Homo sapiens: one gene and its partners. Changing the gene in region 2 together with the main gene of any one other region gives a genetic interaction. Each region holds a gene or a part of one and is shown on either strand. Other genes may lie near its edges. The genes, in order: PBRM1, TYMS, STK11 and CHEK1.

Region 1 (5,196 bases), on a different chromosome or scaffold from region 2:
ATGAAAGTATTCTATAATGGTTACAGGCCTCAGAGTTAATGTTCATTTTAGTTTCCCAGAAATAACTGTGTAATTCTGGGGAACCAGCAAAGGCAACATAGTGAAAGATGGAAAAAAGATTATGTATGTCATACCCAGAACTTTTCTGAGTCTCCTTCCTCATTTATGAAATAAAGCGGCCAGGCATGGTGGCTCATGCCTATAATCCCAATGCTTTGGGAGGCCGAGGCGGGAGGACTGCTTAAGGCCAGGAGTTTGAGACCAGCCTAAGCAACACAGCAAGACGCTGTCTCAACAAAAAAGTAGCCTGGCATTGGGGTACACACTTGCAGTCCTAGCTATCCGGGAAGCTGAGGCGGGAGGGTCACTTGAGCCCAGGAGTTCAAGGGTGCAGTAAGTTATGATGGCACCGCTGCATTCCCACTCTGGGCAACAGAGCAAGACCCTGTCTGTTAAAAAAAAAAAAATCAATAAACAGGCCAGTTGTGGTGGCTCACACCTACAATCCCAGCACTTTGGGAGGCCAAGGTGGGCCAAAATGGTGAAACCCAGTCTCTGCTGAAAATACAAAAACTGATGGTGCACACATGTAATCTCAGCTACTCAGGAGGCTGAGGCAGGACAATCACTTGAACCCGGGAGGTGGAGGTTGCAGTGAGCCAAGATCGCGCCGCTGCACTCTAGTCTGGGCAACAGAGTGAGTGAGACTCTGTCCCAAAATAAATAAATAAATAAATAAATAAATAAATAAAATGTGGGGAGTGGGCAAAATAAACTTCAGACTTTAGAATTTTGACTGGAGGAAATTTTATTACTGTTTCTAGTACCACTGTGGTCTGAGGAAGGTTTACATACAATTGTTTTTATTTCATTTTATTTTGAGGCTGGGTCTTGCCCTGTCACCCAGACTGGAGTGCAGTGGCGTGATCACAGCTCACCATAGCCTCAACTTCTTGGGCTCAGGCTGGCTAATTTTAAAATTTTTTGTAGCAACAGGGTGCTCCCTGTGTTGCCCAGGCTGGTCTCGAACTCCTGGCCTCGAGTGATCCTCCCTCTTCAGCCTTCCAAAGTGCTTAAATTACAGATGTGAGCCACCACACCTGGCTGGCATAAATCAAATTCTATTAACTAAGAATACCAGAGTCTAAAAACTTATTCACAAAACTAACCACAAAGGTCTTAGCAGTTACAGAGACATTCTGGTCAGAGGAGTGTGGCCAAGTAGGCCACCTACTGATACATGCCACTAGAGCATCAAACTTCAGAGAGGTCCCCAGAATGCTGCTCCCATCAGCAAAGGTGAACTGACAAACAATTAAAAGACACGATCAATAATCTAAATGGGTGTTTCCGGAAAGTCTCTTTTTTTTTTTTTTTTGAGATGGAGTTTCGTTCTTGTTGCCCAGGCTGGAGTACAGTGGTGCGGTCTCAGCTCATTGCAACCTCTGCCTCCCAGGTTCAAGCGATTCTCCTGCCTCAGCCTCTCAAGTAGCTGGGATTATAGGCACCTACCACCATGCCTGGCTAATTTTTGTACTTTTAGTAGAAACGAGGCTTCACCATGTTGGCCAGGCTGGTCTCGAACTCCTGACCTCAGGTGATCCGCCCGCCGTGGCCTCCCAAAGTGCTGGGATTACAGGTGTGAGCCACTGTGTCCGGCCTTGGAAAGGTTTTAAATATCTTTTGGGGTCATAGAAATGCTAATACTTGTAGGAAAGCAATAAAAATAAAACTTACCAAGGGAAGACACCCCTGAAACACTTTTTTTTTCTTCTTGAGACACAGTCTCACTCTGCTGCCCAGGCTGGAGTACAGTGGCACGATCATGGCTCACTACAGTCTCAATCTCCTGGCTCAAGCAATCCTCCCACCTCAACCTCTCGAGTAGCTGGGACTATAGGCATATGTCACCAAGCTTGGCTGATTTTTTAAATTTTATTTTAAGTAGAGCTAAGGAAGGTCTTGCTATATTGTCCAGACTGGTCTCAAGCTCCTGAGTGCAAGCCATCCTCCCACCTTGGGCTCCAAAAGTGCTGGGATTACAGGTGTGAGCCACTGTACCTGGCCCCTAAAACATAATTTTATGTTTGTTTTCTGAATGAAGATATTTGAATTCTGTTCACTTGAAATTAAAGTTCATTTTATAATAGTGTACAATTTTAAGTATAAAAAGTGAAAATTTCTGTAAATTAAAAGTAAAAAATTTTTGTAAAATTTTTGTAAATACCTTTCATGGTATACTAAAAGGGCAGATCATAATTCCATCATATCGCATGGTTTAGAAATGAACATTCTGTACAAGAGTCACTAAACACCTAGTATATGCTTTTGTTTATTCAAAGCATTATAAAGAATTTATTAGTCTACGAGGTCAGGTATTCATTGAATGTGCAGGAACATAAACGCAAGCTGGAAAAAGAACTCTAAATTCCCCTCAATTGGTAATCTTTTTATATAAGGCAGACATTCAGCAAAAGGAAATAATTAAGAATACAGGAGGCTCTTAATGCTTCCCTTGTTCATCTTCCCACAGGTCTCTTTTACCTGCAAGGGGATCAGAGTGTTTAGTCTGGGAATACTGCCAGCAGTTTAGGAAAGCCAGCAGCCAACTGGCATGAGTCAGCACTGTGCTGTTACTAAATACTGTTGATGGACAAACTATTGTCACCTGAGTGAATTTTTCTCTTGTTACGTCTCACTGTTCAGATTCCTTCTATTTTAGCCTGTGAAGTCCTAGGTGATGTTGGGTAGCAGTGGTGGGTAGGGGTAGGGGTAAATGGTGATGAAGCATGAAGACTCTTAGAGATCAACATGGAAATCTACGGTATGTAGACTTCATTGAATTTATGAACTAATATTTCTGGGATGCCTAGCTTTGTTACTGATAATATAGTAGATAAAGGCATAGTTTATCATTCACTAAATTGATGCATCTCCATCAATTCTTATTAAGTACTTATTCTTAATAAGTACTATAAGCAATCACAATACTATCTTTGTTCACAAAGTTAAGAATGGCTCCCCGTATGTTTTTCTTTAAAAAATTTTTCCTAACTACTAAATTACCAGGGATCCCTTTTGTTTTTCAACAAAGCTCTGGGCATGAGGGTAAAACTGTGTGCATCACTATCTCATAAAAATACACCTTGGACTCTATCTTCCAGGCCTCAAAAGCAAAAAACAACCATGTCAACAATGGGAGAATGAAAAGAGCTAATTTCCTAGAGATACAAATCTTAATTCTTAAAATAAACATTTCATCTATAAGACATAAACGAAGTTCCTAATAATCTAGAAGACAAATACTCATTGAAAGACTCACAGAACTAACACCAAGATGTAATGGGGCTAAGCAGGGAGGAGAGGAAGGGAGGGGTATTAGACTTAAGGACTACTTAAGCCAAGAACAAGAACAGAAAGAAGTCTAAGCTACATGAAAGCAGAGTTTGTTTTGCCCACTGGTGTATTACATGCATCTAGAATATGCTCATTAAGTAGCCTCTCAATAAATATGTGTTGAATAAATGAGTAACTCCAAGAGTTTTTGACTGCAAGATGTCCCTCCATCCTTCTCTTTATTTCTACTCAATTGCTGAAGAACCATATTATTAAGGACCATTTCTTAAAAGTGTCACACATGGGCCTCACCAAACTGGCCCCAACTCTATCCCTGTCTCTTAAACATATCATATTCATTTCCTAACTCCATTTCTTTGCTCATAACATTCATCTTATTTGAAATATCCTCTGGCCTATTCATTTGAACCCTACCTATCATCCCATGCCTTTTAAGGAGAACTGTGGCCCACAGAGTTCCTTACATCACCATCTTTACTAAATATAAGGTTGTGGCATGTTGTCTCATGTGTGGAATTATTTTTCCCTTAAGCGTAAGTCCTGGCCCATCCATCAGACTTCAAGCTTTTAGAGCACAGAGCTCAAGGCTTATCATCTATGGCCGTGCTCCATGACTTGTCCTGGTAACTGGCTCAGGAGTAGCCCTCTGCAGTGGAGAGCAAGACAAGTCACATCATTTACTAGTTGTAAGACTATGGGTAACTTTTCTCTGCCTATGCCTCTAATTCTTTCACATGCAAACTGAAAAGATTATCACTTATCTAGAATGGCTATCATAAGGGTTAGAGATTGCCTTCATAAAGTGCTTAGCATGGTGCTTTACGAAGAGCTGGTGCTTAACACAAGCAGCAAATGTTACTATGTTTTTTTTCTTTTATTTGCAAAGACACTGAAAGCAAACATTACTACTTGCTTTTCTTTAAAGGTTCAGAGCAAATTCTGATTTCATAGATTCCCCAGCTGGCATTACACTGCCTGAAGGTCTAGTTCTAAACATGATAGGCTGTAAGCTCCAGGAAGGTAAGGTTTGTATCTTTTTTTTTTTTATATTTTTCCAACTGTCTCTAAGTGCACATATAAAATACACTGTAATTGCTGAATTTAATAGTCAAGTCTGCTATTGACATGTAGCAACGATATATCACAGATAAAAATTAGAAGGAAATTTAAGTTTAAAGTAAATCTAAATTTGATTGCTTCTTTTAGAACATTTAATGTCTTCAGCAAGCTCTTAAGGTGAGAAACCTGAGATTAAAAAAAAAAAAGAAACCCTCTGAGGTACTTAAAATGGTGATCAAATTTCTATCAGTCTAACCTCAGGACAACACCTTAGAGCTATTTTATTTAAAGCATTCGTGCACTGAAGCCAAACCTTAAAAGAAAAACGCTGTTACTATTTCCAATTAGAAACATTTATCTTTTTAAAAAACACATTCTATGAAAGGCTGTATTTTAAGTTTATGCTTTTCAAGAGATTTTCAATTTTGTCTTCCTCCTCACTGGCCTTAAACTAGATGACTTAGTGGTGTGCCTTCTCTCCCCCACAGAATATACTCACTCTTAAGAAGTTCTGGCTGATTAGAATTCAGAATAGCATGCTACCAACTACAAATCATGTATGTAAGTGGAAATAGTACATCAAAGCAATATTCTTTCATCTGTTTTGTATTAAATAGCACATATCCTCAAAATAAAAATGGCTTTGAAAACATACCGATTCATCCTTCTTGCTCGTTCCAATACTTCAAACATATGCTCTTGAAATAAATCAAGCCGACGGTAGCGATTATTTTCAACATTCTTCCTAATTATGTCAAATGTAAGGGGTGGTTTGTTAGG
Region 2 (5,196 bases):
TAGTTCTCAAAATTTTGGGAGGAAAGTCCTCTCATGGTCACTGTTCCGAAAAAGGTAACATCAAAGATTTTAAAAAGATGAACCTTGGTAGTGTAGTTCTGTAACTTGATTGTAGTGGTTACAAGAGTCTACACGTGCTAAAATTGCAAATACACACATACACAAGTGCACGTAAAACTAGCAAAATCTGACAACTCTGAGGAATGCACCAATGTGAATGTATACAGGATGTTACCCAAGATATTATCACTGGGGGAAACTGGGTAGTGTGTCCAGGGAAACTTTCTGTGCATTAAAAAAAAAAAAAAAAAAATTCCTGTGAATCTGTAAAACAAAATTAAAAACAAAAAGGGACAAACTTTCCTACTAAAATCCAACAGCTAAGCATTCATACCACTGTAAACTAAAACCATAATTTTATTAGGCCTTTTAAGCGACAAGAAATAATTGAATACTAGGCAGGATTTAAAGCATCATTAAGCCCGGGGACTGGCCTCACATCCTACGGACACCCTACAACTGAGGTGCAGGCAACGACCTGCAGAACACTTACCTGCACAAGTAACTTGGCCCACGCAGCAGCTTTTTTCATTGTGATAAAGTACACATAATATTAAACTTGCCATTTTTGTGTGCAATTCAGAAGCATTAAGCACGTTCCTGATGTTAGGCAACCATCACCATCACCCATCTCCATCACCATCACCATCACCATCACCATCACCATCACCATCTCCATCACCATCACCATCTCCATCACCATCACCATCACCATCTCCATCACCATCACCATCACCATCACCATCTCCATCACCATCACCATCACCATCACCATCACCATCTCCATCATCACCATCACCATCACCATCACCATCTCCATCACCATCACCATCACCATCACCATCACCATCTCCATCACCATCACCATCACCATCACCATCTCCATCACCATCACCATCTCCATCACCATCTCCATCACCATCACCATCTCCATCACCATCACCATCACCATCTCCATCACCATCCCATCACCATCACCATCTCCATCACCATCACCATCACCATCTCCATCTCCATCACCATCACCATCTCCATCACCATCACCATCACCATCTCCATCACCATCACCATCACCATCACCATCTCCATCACCATCACCATCACCATCACCATCTCCATCACCATCACCATCACCATCTCCATCTCCATCTCCATCACCATCACCATCTCCATCACCATCACCATCTCCATCTCCATCACCATCACCATCTCCATCACCATCTCCATCTCCATCACCATCACCATCTCCATCACCATCACCATCTCCATCTCCATCACCATCTCCATCTCCATCACCATCACCATCTCCATCACCATCACCATCTCCATCACCATCACCATCTCCATCACCATCTCCCGAACTTTTTCGTCATCCCTAACAAAACCTCTGTGCCCATTAAACATGAACTCCCCATTCCTCCCTGTTCCCCAGTCCCTGGAAACTAGCATTCCACTTTCTGCCTTTAAGAACTTGCCTATTCTAGGTCCACACAGCATTTTTAAACTTCCTGAAGTTGCTAACATTTAACAGATCTCATGACCGCACATAAAATATAGATTTTAGGCTTTTATTGAAGAATTCTGACATCACCAGGCCCAAATTCCTCCAGGTGGCTGGAGGTGAAATGTGACTGTCCCCTTAGATGAGACACCTGCTCTCCAGGTTGCTGGTCTCTGCCCAGCTAGTAAATTGCACACACAAACCCCACATTCCAAGGTGGCATCTGCTTTTCCTAGGGACAGGTGGGAGGGGCTGGGCTCTGTGACATCCAGTAAGAGGTGACACCAACAGTGACAGGAAAGTGGAAGTCCAGGAGTGAGATGTTTCATTCTTTCTCCACCTCTGCAGAGCTGGGAGTGGAGTGTGACCCTGGCACTGCGCTTCACAGCAGCGCCACCTACAGCACGCTGTGGCTCAGCCTCGAAAGGGAGATTAAAGCCACAACAAAGCAATGGGGGCATTTTGTCCCTTGTCCCACCGATGAACTTCCCATTCCCCAGCACGAACACCAACCATGCAGCTATCTGCCGATGACACAGTATGGAAAGTGCCAAGCGCCCAGTAAGTGCCAATCATCTGACCTACAAAGAGACTTAGACTCCCACACATTAATAATGGGAGACTTTAACACCCCACTGTCAACATTAGACAGATCAACGAGACAGAAAGTTAACAAGGATACCCAGGAATTGAACTCAGCTCTGCACTAAGCGGACCTAATAGACATCTACAGAACTCTCCACCCCAAATCAACAGAATATACATTTTTTTCAGCACCGCACCACACCTATTCCAAAATTGACCACATAGTTGGAAGTAAAGCTCTCCTCAGCAAATGTAAAAGAACAGAAATTATAACAAACTATCTCTCAGACCACAGTGCAATCAAACTAGAACTCAGAACTAAGAAACTCACTCAAAACTGCTCAACTACATGGAAACTGAACAACCTGCTCCGGAATGACTACTGGGTACATAACGAAATGAAGGCAGAAATAAAGATGTTCTTTGAAACCAACGAGAACAGAGACACAACATACCAGAATCTCTGGGACACATTCAAAGCAGTGTGTAGAGGGAAATTTATAGCACTAAATGCCCACAAGAGAAAGCAGGAAAGATCCAAAATTGACACCCTAACATCACAATTAAAAGAACTAGAAAAGCAAGAGCAAACACATTCAAAAGCTAGCAGAAGGCAAGAAATAACTAAAATCAGAGCAGAACTGAAGGAAATAGAGACACAAAAAACCCTTCAAAAAATTAATGAATCCAGGAGCTGGTTTTTTGAAAGGATCAACAAAATTTATAGACCGCTAGCAAGACTAATAAAGAAAAAGAGAAGAATCAAATAGACGCAATAAAAAATGATAAAGGGGATATCACCACCAATCCCACAGAAATACAAACTACCATCAGAGATTACTACAAACACCTCTACGCAAATAAACTAGAAAATCTAGAAGAAATGGATAAATTCCTTGACACATACACTCTCCCAAGACTAAACCAGGAAGAAGTTGAATCTCTGAATAGACCAATAACAGGAGCTGAAATTGTGGCAATAATCAATAGCTTACCAACCAAAAAGAGTCCAGGACCAGATGGATTCACAGCCGAATTCTACCAGAGGTACAAAGAGGAACTGGTACCATTCCTTCTGAAACTATTCCAATCAATAGAAAAAGAGGGAATCCTCCCTAACTCATTTTATGAAGCCAGCATCATCCTGATACCAAAGCTGGGCAGAGACACAACCAAAAAAGAGAATTTTAGACCAATATCCTTGATGAACATTGATGCAAAATTCCTCAATAAAATACTGGCAAACCGAATCCAGCAGCACATCAAAAAGCTTATCCACCATGATCATGTGGGCTTCATCCCTGGGATGCAAGGCTGGTTCAATATACACAAATCAATAAATGTAATCCAGCATATAAACAGATCCAAAGACAAAAACCACATGATTATCTCAATAGATGCAGAAAAGGCCTTTGACAAAATTCAACAACACATCATGCTAAAAACTCTCAATAAATTAGGTATTGATGGGACATATTTCAAAATAATAAGAGCTATCTATGACAAACCCACAGCCAATATCATACTGAATGGGCAAAAACTGGAAGCATTCCCTTTGAAAACTGGCACAAGACAGGGATGCCCTCTCTCACCACTCCTATTCAACATAGTGTTGGAAGTTCTGGCCAGGGCAATTAGGCAGGAGAAGGAAATAAAGGGTATTCAATTAGGAAAAGAGGAAGTCAAATTGTCCCTGTTTGCAGACGACATGATTGTATATCTAGAAAACCCCATTGTCTCAGCCCAAAATCTCCTTAAGCTGATAAGCAACTTCAGCAAAGTCTCAGGATATAAAATCAATCTGCAAAAATCACAAGCATTCTTATACACCAATAACAGACAAACAGAGAGCCAAATCATGAGTGAACTTCCACTCACAATTGCTTCAAAGAGAATAAAATACCTAGGAATCCACCTTAAAAGGGATGTGAAGGACCTCTTCAAGGAGAACTACAAACCACTGCTCAATGAAATAAAAGAGGATACAAAGAAATGGAAGACCATTCCATGCTCATGGGTAGGAAGAATCAATATCGTGAAAATGGCCATACTGCCCAAGGTAATTTATAGATTCAATGCCATCCCCATCAAGCTACCAATGACTTTCTTCACAGAATTGGAAAAAACTACTTTAAAGTTCATATGGAACCAAAAAAGAGCCCACATCGCCAAGTCAATCCTAAGCCAAAAGAACAAAGCTGGAGACATCACACTACCTGACTTCAAACTATACTACAAGGCTACAGTAACCAAAACAGTATGGTACTGGTACCAAAACAGACATATAGATCAATGGAACAGAACAGAGCCCTCAGAAATAACACCGCATATCTACAACTATCTGATCTTTGACAAACCTGAGAAAAACAAGCAATGGGGAAAGGATTCCCTATTTAATAAATGGTGCTGGGAAAACTGGCTAGCCATATGTAAAAAGCTGAAACTGGATCCCTTCCTTACACCTTATACAAAAATCAATTCAAGATGGATTAAAGACTTAAACGTTAGACCTAAAACCATAAAAACCCTAGAAGAAAACCTAGGCATTACCATTCAGGACATAGGCATGGGCAAGGACTTCATGTCTAAAACACCAAAAGCAATGGCAACAAAAGACAAAATTGACAAATGGGATCTAATTAAACTAAAGAGCTTCTGCACAGCAAAAGAAACTACCATCAGAGTGAACAGGCAACCCACAAAATGGGAGAAAATTTTTGCAACCTACTCATCTGACAAAGAGCTAATATCCAGAATCTACAATGAACTCAAACAAATTTATAAGAAAAAAACAAACAACCCCATCAAAAAGTGGGCGAAGGACATGAACAGACACTTCTCAAAAGAAGACATTTATGCAGCCAAAAAACACATGAAAAAATGCTCACCATCACTGGCCATCAGAGAAATGCAAATCAAAACCACAATGAGACACCATCTCACACCAGTTAGAATGGCAATCATTAAAAAGTCAGGAAACAACAGGTGCTGGAGAGGATGTGGAGAAATAGGAACACTTTTATACTGTTGGTGGGACTGTAAACTAGTTC
Region 3 (4,107 bases), on a different chromosome or scaffold from region 2:
GTGACCACAGAAGCTCAGCCATGTCCTCTAGGAGCAGGCAGGCTGACCTGACTCCAAGCCTGACAGATGTCCCCTCCACCCTGAGGCCTGTGTCCCAGGTGGCACTCAGAAGCCAGCACCCACCAGATGGATGCTGGCTGCAAAGCCAGCAAAGGCCAGAAGGGGGTCTGGGGGGCCCTGAGCACATCCCAGCCCAGGAGGCTATCGGGGGGCAGCCCCAGTCCCCGCCAGGCGCCCAGATGACCCGAGCTGTGCAGAGACCCCCAAGGCACAATCAGCACCAGCGCCTCAGGGGTCCGGACACTCCCACTCCCAGAGCCGGTCTCAGTGGGTGGCCTCGGGGCTCGGAGGGGCTCCAGCAGACGGCTCAAGGGCCTCCAGGGGCTGGTGCAGAGGAGCAGAGCCCACGAAGTGAGGGAGGCGGCACTGTGGGGCCTGCTGACCCCGTCCGCTGCTCTGTCTTCCCTGTCATGGAGCTGGGGGCCCTGGGCTGGATCCCAGCCACACCCTGCTGCTGGGAGCCCCAGGAGGAGGGGAAAAAGAGAGGCTCTCGCCAGTGTTTGGGACCAGCTGTGCCCTTCCTGGCGCATCTCCATGCCTAGGGCAGGGACGGACGCATGTCCTCACTCAGACCCCAGTTCGGACAAGGCGCCTGGGTCTGGCCGGTAACAGGACACTGCCCAGAGACCCCACTCGGGCCCCGAGAACTGCGGGCGCTGCACGGGGTCTGGCCCCAGCCCAGCCTGGCACCCCCACCACGCCCTGCTCTAGCGCCCGCTCAACCAGCTGCCCACATGGCCGGCCTCCCTGCAGCCTCGGCCCCACTGCCCCCAGGGGCCGCTCACCTGTGCTGCCGGATCTGCCGGATGGAGAACCTCTTGGCCGGTTCGTACTCAAGCATCCCTGAGGAGAAGCCGGCGAGGAGCCTGTCAGCTGGGCACAGGCCTGAGACCCCACCAACCGTCCCCGCCTGCCCAGCCTCTGTTGTCAGGCCCTGGGTGATACCTGGACGCTCCTAAGGGGGACCCCGCGCACAGGCGGTCTCCCTGACAGAGGCCACTCCACTCCTGGGACATGCCGGGGACAGCCTGTGCGCGGCTGGCAGGGAGACAGGGCTGGGCTGGACGGCCAGGGCGGTTCCGTTCTCCCAAGGCCACTGGGCAGATGGACGGACGGCCAGTGCCACCTGCTGCCATGCGTAGGAAGTGCAGCAGGACAACCCTGACAGACCCTGCAAGCCAGGGAGCCCCCGAGGGTGGGGCTGGGGGAGGCGCAGGGCAGCACTGCCCTCTGGGGTGGGAGTTCGGAGGGTGAACAGGGCCCAGAAGCAGGGTGGAGCTGAGGGACCTGGCAAACCAGGCCCTGCGGGGAGGTCGGCCTCTCCACTCAGTCCTCTCAATGCCTGCTGGGGTCTCGGGGCCAATAGCCCCCCACCTGACACCCCCAACCCTACATTTCTGCACAAAAGCCCCGCCTCCCTGGGGCTGCGGGCAGAGGGATGAGGCTCCCACCTTTCAGCAGGTCAGAGAGCGGGGGGCCACAGTCGCCCGGGATGGCGTAGCTCCCCTTCCCGATGTTCTCAAACAACTTGTAGATGTTGTCCCCTTCGAAGGGGTACAGACCCGTGGTGATGTTGTAGCTTCATTTCGAGGGGAGGGAAGAAAGGCGTGGTCAGTCAAGGTGGTTGACGCCCTAGGAGCCCCAGCTCTACCCCAGGGACAGAGGCGTCCCGTGGCTGCTGGACCAGAGGCCCTGTGGACTCAAGGACACCTCTGTCTTCACCACCTTCCACTAGTGGAGGCTACGGGGTAGGAGGGGAGTGTCCTCTGGACCCACCCGGGGAAGGGGCCTGGAGCTGCTGTCACCCGCCCAGCTTCCCTGTGGGGCTCTGGGAGGAGGGTCGGCCGTGCCACTCTGTGAAGATCCCTGACGGGCCAGGCTGCACTTCACACGGGTGAACCACCATCTGCCGTATGAGTTACATTTCCATAAAGTAAGCACCCCCTAGCGGCTGTGGCCAGAGAGGGTCTGGGCCGGTGGCCACGCCCTGCGCCCACAGGCCGGCAGCTGCCCAAGACGCAGAGGCCCCTCGGAGTGTGCGTGTGGTGAGTGCCCGGGGGGGCGGGGCACTTACAGGGTGACCCCAGCCGACCAGATGTCCACCTTGAAGCCGGAGAAGGTGTCCAGGCCGTTGGCAATCTCGGGCGGCTGGAAAGCCGGGGAGCCCTGGCTGGTCCGGCAGGTGTCGTCCGCCGCGAACGGGTGCAGTGCCTGTGGCGGTGCCGTGCAGCCCTCAGGGAGTGCCCGGGAGGGGGCGCCCCAGGGCCCCCCCTAGCACGTGCCTACCTCGGCCACGCCCAGGTCGGAGATTTTGAGGGTGCCACCGGTGGTGAGCAGCAGGTTCCCCGGCTTGATGTCCTTGTGCACAATGCCCTGGCTATGCAGGTACTCCAGGCCGTCAATCAGCTGACAGAAGTACCTGCGGGCAGCACACACCCGTCCTGGGGCCGAGGCCTCCCTGCCCCTCACAGGGGTCCCCTTTGCAGCTGCCTGGGAGCCTCCCAAACACCACAGGCCCAGCTGGGAAGTCACAGAAGTCCAGGCACACAGGACAGAGGAAAGGCTAGGTCCAGCAGGGAGCCACACCTGCGCCTGCAGTGGCCACCCTCGTCCGGCCGAGCCACGTCTGGCAGGGCCCCGGATGTCCACAGGTCTCATTTTCCTGTGGGCCACAGGCCGGCTGCACCCCAAAGTCTTGCTGGAACAGCAGGCCCCTCCCTGCCCCTGTGGTCCTGCAGCAGCAAGGGGCCCTGACTCTGAGGCCACAGACCTGCATCCAGGAGATCTGGTCAGGGCAGGCGGCTGCCAGCGATGGGCTGGAAGCAGGCCACTGGCCTCAGGCAGCAGGCCCAGCAAAGATGGAGGCGGGAGGTTGGCAGCAGCCCTGCCTGTGGATGCCACACATGGGGGACCCCAAAACTGTTTTTAAAAACTTGGGCCTTTACAAGGCCGGGCGTGGTAGCTCATGCCTGTAATCCCAGCACTTTGGGAGGCTGAGGCAGGCGGATCACGAGGTCAGGAGTTTGAGACCATCCTGGCTAACACGGTGAAACCCCGTCTCTACTAAAAATACAAAAAATTAGCCGGGCGTGGTGGCGGGCGCCTGTAATCCCAGCTACTCGGGAAGCTGAGGCAGAAGAATGGCGTGAACCTCGGAGGCGGAGCTTGCAGTGAGCCGAGATCGCACCATTGCACTCCAGCCTGGGCGACAGAGTGAGACTCCATCTCGAAAAAAAACACAAAAAAACAAAAAAACAAAAAAACTTGGGCCTTCATGTCAATGAATATCAGGACAAGCAGTGTGGCCTCACGGAAAGGAGCCTGCCCTGCCTGGCCCCCGGCCCCCGCCCCACCCTGGCCCCTGCCCCGCGCACGCACCCGTGGGCCTGGCACACTGGGAAACGCTTCTCCGGCACGCTGTCCAGCATTTCCTGCATGCCACACACGCAGTACTCCATCACCATATACGTGGGGCGCTAAGGACACACAGCTCAGGGGGCGGCCCCACTCACAGGCCCAGGGAGCACGGGGGCCAGAAAAGGGGCTCTGGAGGGACCCTCTGCACCCACCTTGCCCCTCCTCGGGACCAGGGCCCACCCTGCCCTCAGCCACCCCTCTGAAAAGGCCCAGGGGCCCCAGCGTCCCAGGAGGAAGGAGCCTACGGGGAAGGGGAGGACAGGGCTGACTCTTGGGGCAGCGTTCCTGCGGGGCTCACGTCCCCCACCCTGCCCATGGGCGGGGGATGGTGCCTCCTGGACGCCCCCCCAAGCAGGCTCGGGCCCATGCAGGACGGTCCCAGGGCCCCTGACCGCGTGGCTCAGGGAACACAGCCCCAGCCTCAGGACCACTTCTGGCTCTTGCTCTGGGCACAGGGCCTTAGGAAGCAAAGTCCCCGTAGGGAGGCTGTGCCCGTAAGACCCATGGGGGTGTCCACAGATGACACGAGGACACGCCCAGCCACGACCAAAATGGCCCACAACGGTCAGCCCGCGTGGCCTGTCTCAGGCAGACCGTGGCTACACCCCTGGTTAGCCTGGGAGGAGACTC
Region 4 (5,196 bases), on a different chromosome or scaffold from region 2:
AGCAAACAGAGGAGGTTATTATTTTAGATAAGTCAGGGAAAGACTTTGCAGAGGAAGTAACATTTCTGAGATGGAGAAAACTAGGAGAGGAACAGGTTGGAGAACAGGAATCAAAAGCTGTTTTTGGTCAAGAGATGCCTACTAGACATTCAAGTGGAAATGTAAAGCAGGTAAAAGGTTAGAGCTTACAGAAGAGGTTCAAGTCAGTGAGAGCTGTTTTTGAAAAATATTAATGACTCAGATAATTCTCAAGAACAAAATTTCTCCCATATTTGAGAATTTATACTGATTCAATTCTTAAGCATACCGTAAATAGGTTCAAATAAATAAAACAGGTTTGAATTTATTCCTCCTATGGGTATACTCCAGTAACACAATTTGCCAGTATACATTAATATGTGATAAACTCTAATCATAACATTCTACATGTTCTTGGCTTCAGATTAAAATAACTGATTAATTTTATAATGTTTTACAATTTTAAAAATTTTTATTAGAGGTAGGGTCTTACTCTGTCATCCAAGCTGGAGTGCACTGGTGCAATCATAGCTCACTACAGCCTCAAACTTCCAGGTTCACGCGATCCTCCTCTCTCAGCCTCCTAAGTAGCTGGGACTACAGGCAGGAGCCAAGGCCTCAACCTAATATGCCCCAAAGTTGATACAAATTTTATTAGAAAAACAAACTTTTTGTAAGTCTAACAGGTAAAGGAACAAAGAATCAGATCTATTTTTCTTATAGCTTCCTTACTCTTCCCTTCCCTCTTTTATTCTTTATCACCTAAAAGCTTGGTCACCAGTAAGTTGAAAAGGTTAAAATATGGCTATGAAAGTAGAAAATATAGAAAAATATTTAAGATGTTCAACAGTAATTTTTAGAGTAAAGTTAGTTAAGCACTAGAGTTTATGCAACACTGTAAAATACAAGTATTTTACTAACTACACTGGAAAAAACACCTACTTGCAATTTTAATTAATCATTATAATTCAAAAACAGGTTTATATAACTGGCCAGGCCCTTTTGAAAATATAAGTACAAATCTTGGGGATATGTTTTGAAGCTGGCTTCGCTTCACAGACTGATAAATCTACTGTCCAAAAGTCACAAGAATTATGTCTTTATTGGTTCATCTTAGAATTAAATCAACATGGAATATGTACTTTTTGAATTAAACAAAATGTTTTGATAAAAATGAGATACGTGTGTATAAAAGCTGGAAAACTCATGTCCCCTGAAACTTGGTTTCCACCAGATGAGTTTCAAATTCAGATACTAAACACACATGAAGAAATAATCAAATGAATTCTATTCATCCTTTCCCCAAAGTTTTGCTTACAATTAAGATATAGGTATTATTTGTATGCCGAACAAACAAAATAAATTGGAAGATGTTTGGATAAACAGGGAAGTGAACACTTCAGGAACTACTATTTGCAGTTTGCAGGACAGGATAATCTTCTCTAGGAAGAATAATGTCAACATAGCAGCACTATATTCACCAGGATTCCCCAGAGCCGATGGTCCGATCATGTGGCAGGAAGCCAAATCTTCTGGCTGCTCACAATATCAATCAGCTTCCCTTTAATCTTCAGGAAGTGTCTCTTGAACTCCAATCCATCACCCTATATTAGAAATAGTATTAAAAAATTATGTCAAAACAAAAACAAAAACAAAATTCTGTCCTAAAATCAATCTCTTTGTAGTGGTAACAAGAGACAAACATCTTTAGGTATGTCTAGCTACCATTTTCTTTTCGGTCTGTTTATGAAGACCAAATATCCTGGAAGAGAAAATTGTTACACAAATAATTCTGATGTGGTTTCATGCCCATCACTGTTCCTACTGCACTGAGCTCAGAGAGCAGATAAACATGGCATCCTATCTGTTTCAGGTGTTGGTATATCTGGACCTAAGTCATTACATTCCATAGGCAGTGAGGGTTTGGAAACTAACAATAAACTATACAACTAAACTGAAGTCTTGTTGTCATAACACTACTGACCAAAATCAATAGATTTAGTTATGAGAAGAATTTCATTATACTACGATCTTAATTTAATTCTGTAGCAAGCATCTGAAAAACAGTATTGCAGCAAATCTCTAATACAAAGAGTACTGCGGCAAATGCTCTAACACAGCAGCTACCCCTCCAACCCTCTTTAGAGCCACATACAATCTCTCAGAAAATAGAGAAAAATGTTATTTTGGTTTTATATATCAAGGGCTGTAATACTATCATCTTAGAATCAATGATTTCTAAAGAAATCATCAGAAATATGAACAAAAAAATCTATGCATAAAATAGCAATCACAGAATTATTATAACTGGTAAAGGTTCATTAAATTATAATGAAATATTTGTAACAAATCATAATTTTTATTAAAAGACATAAATTAAGAAAAATATTAAAATGCTTCGAAATATTAATGTGATCACTGAAAATTTAGAATTATTTTTATTTTCTCATTTTTTGCTTATCTACATTTTTCACAAAAGCAGAAATTTCTTTTTTTTGAGACAGAGTCTCTTGTATTGTCACCCAGACTGGAGTGCAGTGGCGTCATCTCGGCTCACTGCAACCTCCGCCTCCCAGGTTCAAATGATTCTCCTGCTTCAGCCTCCCAAGTAGCTGGGATTACAGGCACCCGCCACCACGCCTGGCTAATTTTTTGTATTTTTAGTAAAGATGGGGTTTCACTATGTTGGCCAGGCTGGTCTCAAACTCCTGACCTCGAGATCCACCCGTCTCGGACTCCCAAAGTGCTGGGATTACAGGCATGAGCCACCACGCCTGGCAAAAACTTTTATAATAAGGAAAATGTCATTTGAAAAAAACAATGTTCGGGAAAAATAGATAACGAAAACACATGCTCATAATATTAAACGAAAAAAGCAAGTAACCTATTTACAAATGCCACATATATACAAACATAATGCCATTAAAAAAATTCATATAGAAATATTTCCATAGAAAGAATACAATAAAACATAAAAATACCTTAGAAAGCCGGAAGTCAACCAATATTTTATCATCCATTTCTAACAAATTCACTTTGAAAATGAGTTTATTGTTTCTCCTATCAGTTGTTGATATAGTAACCTAAGGCAACAAAAATAAGGTTAAGCCACATGGGTGAGTAGATAATAAACTAGTAAACCCACTATGAAGAACAGAATAGAAGTTTCTCAAAAAACTACAAATAAAACTACCTATATGTTCCAGCAATCCCACTACTGATCCAAAGGAAAGGAAATTATATGGAAGAGAAATTTGCAACCCTACAGCATTATTCACAATAGCCAAGATATGGAATCAACCTAGGTATCCAACAACAGATGAGTGTAGGCCAGGCACTGTGGCTCACGCCTGTAATCCAGCACTTTGGGAGGCCAAAGCAGAAGGATCGCTTCAGACCAGGCTGGGCAACATATCGATACCTCATCTCTACTAAAATTCCCAAAAAATTAGCGGGCATGGTGGTGCATGCCTACAGGCCCAGCTACTCAGGGGGCTGAGGCAGAAGGGTCACTTGAGCCCAGGAGGTTGAAGCTGCAGTGAGCTATGATTGCGCCACTGCACTCTAGCATGGGCGACAGAGCGAGACCCTGTCTCAAAAAAACAAAACAAAAAGCCAAGCAAACAGATGAGGATAATATGATATATATACACAATGAAATACTACTCAGCCATATAAAGGAATGAAATCCTGTCATTTGCAGCAACATGGGTGGAACTGGAGGACATTATGTAAAGTGAAATAAGCCAGGAACAGAAAATTAAACATCACATGTTCTCACTCATATGTGGAAACAAAAAAACTGTTAATTTCATAGAAGTAGAAGGCAGAACAGAGGATACTAGAGTCCAGGAAGGGGAGAGGGAAGGGAAAGATAGAGATTCATGAAAGAATACAAAATTACAGCTAGATAGGAGTAAGTTCTAGACCACTGTAGGATGACTATACTTAACAATAATAGAGTTTCAAATTGCTAGAAGGATACTGAACATTCCCATCACTGAACATTCCCATTCCCACAATGTTTGAAATTATGAATATGCTAATTATCCTGATCTGATCATTATACATTATATGAATCAAAACATCACTACATACCCCATGAATACATTACAATTATTGTATCAATTAAAAAAAATTTGCTGGCTACCTCCATAACAGGAGTAATATTAAGTATGCTGATAATCTCACTCATTCCAGAGTCTCTCTTCTCCCAGTGGGTATGTGTGTCCCCAACCCAATCTATCAACAGGGGTGCAGCTCCTAGGGATTGAGTGTATATGAACTCATAGCAACAAAACTTACTGTCTTTTACCAAAATACCACTGAAAGAAGAAACAATCAAAGATGAAAACATAATGGGAGGAAAAACAAGATTATTAAAATGTGAGAAAGAAAAAGGCCTGACTTGTGGCTGAAAAGCTAGAGCGGCAATTAGAAGATGGCAAAGGTCTTGAGAGGCCTTCAACTTCCACTTTCAGTCTTTTAGAACGTTCCTATGGCATGGAAAGACGCTCAGCCTAGCTGAATGATGCAGAAAGAAAAGACTCAGCTAACAGACAGTGCCAAGACTCCAAATATGGGAGTAAGGATGTTTTAGACCACCAGCCACAGTAAAGACATCAAATGACTACAGCTGGATGAGTTAAGCCCGAGCGAGATCAGCAGATTTGCCCAAAAAACACAGCCCAAATTACAAAAGTTTTTGTAATAATTCTTACTTCAAGAAACTATGAAAACACACAACCATACCACGACTGTGCAGCACTGAAATAACCCACTATGTTCTGGGAAAATTAATACAAGATATTCAACTCAACACATCTGAATTAAGCTCTTAAACTTCAAAGACAAAGAAAATACTTCAAGAACTGAGAGAGAGTGAATCAAGGAGTGATGTCAGTGAAAATGGCAGAGAAAAGAACTCCAGAAGTCCATTACTCCACAAAAGCAATTTTAAAAACCTGCCAAAGCCTGTCAGAATCAACTTTTTCAGAACATTGTAAACTAGCTAAAAGCTTGCAGCAACTTATTCAAAACAAGTGAAACGCAGTAAGAACAGTGAGCTTTCTGGCATTTTAACTTACCCTGTTTATCCCCTGCTCCTCACTCAGTAGCAGCCTTGAAAATAACAGTTCATATTTAAGGCATAGGTCCAGGTGGGAGCAGAATAAACCT

The links.
Region 1: changes in TYMS (region 2) and PBRM1 together harm fitness more than expected from each alone (negative genetic interaction), as found in Homo sapiens cells (one large-scale study listed by BioGRID).
Region 3: changes in TYMS (region 2) and STK11 together harm fitness more than expected from each alone (negative genetic interaction), as found in Homo sapiens cells (one large-scale study listed by BioGRID).
Region 4: changes in TYMS (region 2) and CHEK1 together harm fitness more than expected from each alone (negative genetic interaction), as found in Homo sapiens cells (one large-scale study listed by BioGRID).

Annotation. Positions count from the first base shown.
Region 1 is NC_000003.12:52,604,242-52,609,437, forward strand, and holds part of PBRM1 (protein polybromo-1), read right to left. Parts: coding exon 5,072-5,196; intron 1-5,071. UniProt on the Homo sapiens protein: Involved in transcriptional activation and repression of select genes by chromatin remodeling (alteration of DNA-nucleosome topology). Required for the stability of the SWI/SNF chromatin remodeling complex SWI/SNF-B (PBAF).
Region 2 is NC_000018.10:663,110-668,305, reverse strand, and holds part of TYMS (thymidylate synthase), read right to left. Parts: coding exon of another isoform or gene 3,030-5,196; exon of another isoform or gene 1,910-3,029; intron 1,470-1,909; exon of another isoform or gene 627-1,469; coding exon of another isoform or gene 554-626; intron 1-553. Other genes in the region: ENOSF1 (mitochondrial enolase superfamily member 1), read left to right, coding at 3,030-5,196. UniProt on the Homo sapiens protein: Catalyzes the reductive methylation of 2'-deoxyuridine 5'-monophosphate (dUMP) to thymidine 5'-monophosphate (dTMP), using the cosubstrate, 5,10- methylenetetrahydrofolate (CH2H4folate) as a 1-carbon donor and reductant and contributes to the de novo mitochondrial thymidylate biosynthesis pathway.
Region 3 is NC_000019.10:1,218,745-1,222,851, reverse strand, and holds part of STK11 (serine/threonine-protein kinase STK11), read right to left. Parts: intron 3,529-4,107; coding exon 3,439-3,528; intron 2,480-3,438; coding exon 2,347-2,479; intron 2,272-2,346; coding exon 2,135-2,271; intron 1,640-2,134; coding exon 1,512-1,639; intron 904-1,511; coding exon 846-903; intron 1-845. UniProt on the Homo sapiens protein: Tumor suppressor serine/threonine-protein kinase that controls the activity of AMP-activated protein kinase (AMPK) family members, thereby playing a role in various processes such as cell metabolism, cell polarity, apoptosis and DNA damage response.
Region 4 is NC_000011.10:125,651,651-125,656,846, reverse strand, and holds part of CHEK1 (serine/threonine-protein kinase Chk1), read right to left. Parts: intron 3,102-5,196; coding exon 3,000-3,101; intron 1,623-2,999; coding exon 1,527-1,622; 3' UTR 1-1,526. UniProt on the Homo sapiens protein: Serine/threonine-protein kinase which is required for checkpoint-mediated cell cycle arrest and activation of DNA repair in response to the presence of DNA damage or unreplicated DNA.